Regions from separate parts of the Homo sapiens genome. Here region 2 is linked to region 1. The links come from fine-mapping of genetic effects on gene expression. A gene starts in region 1. The other region holds a variant in brackets. All regions are shown on one strand. Distances are between the middles of the regions.

Region 1 (2,830 bases):
ACCCCCAGATGGGACTGTCTAGTTGCAAGAAAACAAGCTCAGGGCTCCCACTGATTCGACATTATGGTGGTGTTGTATAATTATTTCATTATATATTAGAATATAATACATAATATATATTATATGATATATTAGAATATAATACGTAATATATGTTATATAATATTTAGAATATAATATGTAATATATGTTATATAATATTTAGAATATAATACGTAATATATGTTATATAATATATTAGAATATAATACGTAATATATGTTATATAATATATTAGAATATAATACGTAATATATGTTATATAATATATTAGAATATAATACGTAATATATGTTATATAATATATTAGAATATAATACGTAATATATATTATATAACATATTAGAATATAATACGTAATATATGTTATATAATATATTAGAATATAATACATAATATATATTATATTATATATTAGAATATAATACAGAATATATATTATATATTAGAATATAATACATAATATATATTATATATTAGAATATAATACAGAATATATATTATATATTAGAATATAATACAGAATATATGTTATATAATATATTAGAATATAATACAGAATATATGTTATATAATATATTAGAATATAATACAGAATATATGTTATAGAGTATATTAGAATATAATACATAATATATGTTATATAATATATTAGAATATAATACATAATATATATTATATTATATATTAGAATATAATACATAATGAAATAAGGAATATAATAGAATATTATTTCATAGAATAGAATAGAATATTATTTCCTTCTATAATAGAATAGAATATTTCATTATTTCATCCCATATTCATTATTTCATTCTATAATATTATAGAATAGAATAGAATATTATATAATGTAATAGAATATTATTTCATTATATATTAGAATATAATATATAATGAAATAAGGAATATAATAGAATATAATAGAAGTAAAGTAATTATTATAAGTAAACACAGTAGAAACAAAGTTCACAATAAATGTCATGTGTTTGAATCATCTCGAAACCATCCTCCCCCACCACCTCCCTGGTCCATGGAAAAAATGTCTCCCATGAAACTGGTCCCTGGTGCCAAAAAGGTTGGGGACTGCTGTTCTAGGGCCACTGAGTGATTCACAGGACAGGAGACATTTGTGAGGGGCTCCTTGGGGACCCCTACTTCCCTGCCCTGTAACATCCAGCCTCATGTGCGCACGTGTTCAACTTCATGCCTTTGACTTAGACACATCGACATGAGCATACCGGCCTTCTGGTTCCAAGCCAGGGTTCCATAAACAAATCCTTCTTAGTTAGCCTTGGTAGCTCAACACCTTTGGTATCTCACTCACTTAACTGCCACGCCTACTCTTGTTGGATCCGGTTATAAAGTAAACTATGTTCTTTGAGAACTGTTGCATACAGATGAGTTGGCAGCCGGTCTGAGCTGGCCCACAGACTCATAAAATCAACAGGGCCTCGGGTACCCTCACCTAGCATATCCAAACTCTTGCATCAAAGGTGCAGGGACTTGCTCACATCGAGAATCTGGTTGCTTTCTTGGAGACCAAGAAAATGAGTTTTTGTTTCTACATTTACTCCAGCAATCCATGAGGTAAGAGGAGAAACACCTCATTGTCTCTTTGTAGGAAAAAGAAGTTAATTCTTGTGAAAATTTAGACCTCTTTTCCCCGCCTCAAATCTAGGCAGACTTGTCTGTCCACTCCTGGGGGATAGATAGAAGCATGGTTTTAACTCACTCACTGGATGCTTTTGGTGTGCTGGTTACATGTGGATTATTAGCTGTGTGCTGCATCTTGCCTTCCCTGGGTCACTCCGCAGCCCTGGGGCTGGAGGGCAGTAAGAATCTTTGGTTGCATCATGCCTGATTCCAAAGTCTTCTTTTGGTGGCAGAGATGTATGTAGGGTTTTCATCTCTGGTGGCATCCTTTCAATTGTAGCAAGACCTTGCCTAGTAACACAACCTCTGCCAAGCCGTTTCCATCTTTAAGGTAGAGGATCAAGGTGCTAGTGGGGTCTATTATGGAAAACATATATCAGGAAAAGGCAAGAGTTAGCCAGACATTTTGATTACCTTCACCCAAATGTCTTTCTTTCATTTTCTGATGTAGGACTTTATAGGAATTTTGCACCATTCTGAATGGATACATTTGGATTTCTCAACATTTGTTCAGCTTCCTAATGACTGTTGTGACAATTGCTCTATACCAGTGAATGCCAACTGTTTATCTCTGCTCTGAACAGGTATGGAGCCCCTTCTCCCAATATCTGTATCTTACAGATTTGGTGCATAGACGCTTAAAAGGAGTTGGTCTTTCGCAACCAGCAATCTTTAGGAAAAATGATTGAATTTTTCTCCTTTTAGCTGGGCTTACAAAATGGAGCAAAACATAGTGATTGTGCTATGGACCTTTTATGGACAGGGACTTGGCAGAGCCACTCACTGGATGCTTTTGATCTGCTGGTTGTACCTGGATTATTAGTTGCGAGCTGCACGCTGCCTTCCCTGGGCCATTCCGTAGCCCTGGGGCTGGAGGGCAGTTAGAATCTTTGGTTGAATCTTCGGTTACATTGGAGGAGCTGCCCAGTCTTTGTGGGCTCCCTTCAGTCATGGGCTTGGCTTGTGTTGTCTTACTCTACACTGTTTAGTGTAAATGGATTCTCACTAAGTCAGCTTCAGCTTTTAAGAGCATGATGGGGTGGAGATATCTGGGAACGTATGGGCCATCAGAAAAGCATTTTTTTATACTCAAGTCATGAAGGTGGATTTCTTCTGTGTAAGGAGGTGCACCAAG
Region 2 (2,788 bases), 58 kb after region 1:
CCAGCGCCTGGCCACCTCATCGGGGTCCGTCATTTTGAACTCCCCGTTGGTCCCCTCCCAGGTGATACAGCTGGCGTTGGCGCTGTCGGAGAGCAGCTCCAGGAGGAATTGCCACAGCTGGATCTGCCCGCTTCCTGCACGCCGTGAGGCAAACGGGAGAGAACAGAACACCTCAGCCCAGAGAAGGCAGAACCCAGTTCCCTAAATGCAGGGAGCTTCTCATCCTTTTAAAGAAACCTTTTGTTTCCTTCGACATTGGGATCGACTTGACAAGCCCTTCTTATGTCATTGTTGATTTGCCTTTCTGCTTGCCTTGGAGATGGGTATAATAAGCGAGGTTAGATCCTAAGATGCTTTGCCCCAAGGCCTGGTAAATGGAATGTGGGAAGTGAGGTGCAAACTCTGCCCAGAACTAGCTGTGTGATCTTGGGTGAGCCATATCCCCCCTCAATCCCTTTGGCAAGGCTTTTGAATCTCTTCATCTAGAAAGGCCTGAATCACTGACTGATCTCTAATTAGTGGTCATGTCCCCCAGGGAATTCCCTGTCAGCAATAAAAAGTCAGGGGCAAGGCATGACTGTGGGAGTCATTGGGAGAAGCTGCGCCATGAGCTTTAGCTTTTGGATGGACAGGACCTGGATTGGCCCTTGGCAGGCCCAGAGCTTGGCTTGCAGCTCTAAGTTCTACAGAGAACTTGTGCAGAGAGAAAAATACCCAGAATATGCTGGGTGGCTGCTTTCTCCTCTGGCAGTAATGACCAGGCACTAAGGAATGGGTAGGCAGAGTCCCTGGGATGGGAAGGTGAGTGGGCCACACTGCGACAAGGGCCTGCTAGCTCCCAATCTCGATGGACTTGGTTTAGAAGGACCCTCTTGAGAGTTATTTTTGATACTAAATCTTTAAAGTACAAGGTCAAATTGACTATATCTGCAACTTTTCCAGGACACATCTCTTTTATAAGGCCAGATAACTTGGCAACACTTTCTAAAATCACAAATAAAACCCTTTGGAATATTTATGAACTTGTGCCTGGCATGCGGGAGACAACTGAGAGCTGAGTGGAGTTGTCTTCTTTTCTTTCTTGCCCATTTTCTCTGATTGAAACGCCTACCTACCTGTGCCACTTATTACTCATCTACACCTAAGTGCACATGTGCAGTGCTGATGTGTTTATTCCTAGAAGTATCCTCAGCTAACCAACCTTGACACCTCATAACAAGCCCTGACCTGTTGTTCACATGCTCCAGAAACAGACATTGAACATTTCAAGGAAAGA[C/G]GTGCATGTTACTCCCCACTCAGGTGTCTGGACTTAGGACAGAAGTCTCTGTGATTTCACAAAGCTACGAAACATTCTGGCAAAAAAGGCTTGCAGGCCAAGGTAAACTCACCAGGGTTGGCTAGGCGACTGCTGGTCGGGCCCAGGATCTGATACGGATCTAAGGAAATAAAAAAGGAAATTTGCTTCAGTGTTTTTAAAAAATATGACAACCGTACCAACCATAAGAAAACCATAAGGGTTTATACTTTTATTTCAAGATCACAGGAAAGACTGATTTCAGAAAACTTTACTGCTTTTATTTGCAGATCTCAAAGATCTTGATGACATTTGTGGTCTTCATCTCAATAATTACAGAAAGAACAAAGAATAGGAACAGGATTACTTTTTCTTATTTTGGCATCTAAAATGTGCAGATTATGTTGTCATTACCCAAAGCAAAACAAAGAAAACATTTGGAAAGGAACTGGATAATATTCAATGATACAACGGACAGCTGACTCCATGGGCTTAAAGCAGGTCTCATGGTTACTGGTCTTTAATAACTCTACCTAATACTAACAACATTATTAATCTGTTTTTTTTTTTAAATGTAGCATGAAAAACACATGCCTAGAAACCAAGCAGCCTGGGTTTTAGCAGCAGCTATGTGATAAACAAATAACTTGTTGGACAATTTCTGGGAATCAGTTTTCTCATCTGACAAATGAGTGGGTTGGGCTACTGGATTCCTCAGTTTTCTTCTAGTATAACACTCTGTGATTTGAAATGTCACACAAGCCAGAAATGTCAGCACAAACCAGAGTGTACATTTTAGCTATAAAATGACTATTCTTAAAATCTCACTTTCCTCAAAACGTATGTGTTTATTTAGCCATGAAAAAGTCTTTGCAATACTGGTTTAGGTGAGAGGTTTATCTCCTTTTTTGTTAGTTGAGGAAATCATGGTAGAGAGCTGGGTCTCGACTTGGCAAAATTGTCATGTATTTTGTAAAATTTTGCTATTTTTCAACTATAATTGCAGTTTTAAAAATATCACTATGATTTTTGGGTTTCTACTTAGAACCATAAATTACCTTCAAAAGTCCTTAAGCCCATTGAGACCATCTTTTCTCATCCACATCATTAATATGATAATTATTTTTGGCAGGTGATGACTAATGCATAATTTTGTTGTTATTGGACAGTCTTTAAAACTCTCTACATCTGACTTATGATCCACAGTCAGCAAATTTTTTCTTAACCTTCCAGGTGAAATGTCAGTTGATTTTCTCTTGCTCTGCCTTCTGTGGAGATGGGGAACAATGTTTGCCTACCCCAAAGCAAATGACTTGTTCAGAACTTCATCTCAGCTGCATCACATAAGAAGATAGAGAGAGGAGCTGGGGCTTGGGCACAGCAGCTGTCTTCAGATATGCAAAGGATTTCGGAGGAAGCAGGAGGAAGGCTTCTCCAGAAGGAAAAGCTTGAGTGGAAATTCCAGGAGGCAGACTTTGGGTCAGATAGTGGAAC

Direction of the effects. Alleles are on the strand shown, and positions count from the first base shown. SD is a standard deviation of normalised expression in the study named.
For the expression in spleen of the gene that starts at base 1,506 in region 1, allele G in region 2 goes with a lower level than allele C (small effect, 0.38 SD a copy in GTEx).

The links. PIP is the estimated chance that this variant, and not a neighbour inherited with it, causes the effect. A credible set is the group of variants that fine-mapping cannot tell apart.
Region 2: its variant is the best candidate, but not a certain one, in a credible set for the expression of KCNJ1 in spleen (GTEx, PIP 0.78).

The regions. Positions count from the first base shown.
Region 1 is chr11:128,865,972-128,868,801 of GRCh38, reverse strand. It overlaps KCNJ1 (potassium inwardly rectifying channel subfamily J member 1), which reads left to right and starts at 1,506. Exons shown (of 3, transcript NM_153766.3): 1 at 1,506-1,629. It overlaps LOC107984409 (a long non-coding RNA gene), which reads right to left. Exons shown (of 3, transcript XR_001748442.2): 3 at 1,623-2,052.
Region 2 is chr11:128,807,805-128,810,592 of GRCh38, reverse strand. FLI1 (Fli-1 proto-oncogene, ETS transcription factor) reads right to left here. Exons shown (of 9, transcript NM_002017.5): 8 at 1,389-1,436; 9 at 1-134. Among named protein-coding and RNA genes, the nearest start is that of KCNJ1, 58 kb to the left of the region's middle. The variant C/G (reference allele first, on the strand shown) is at 1,277.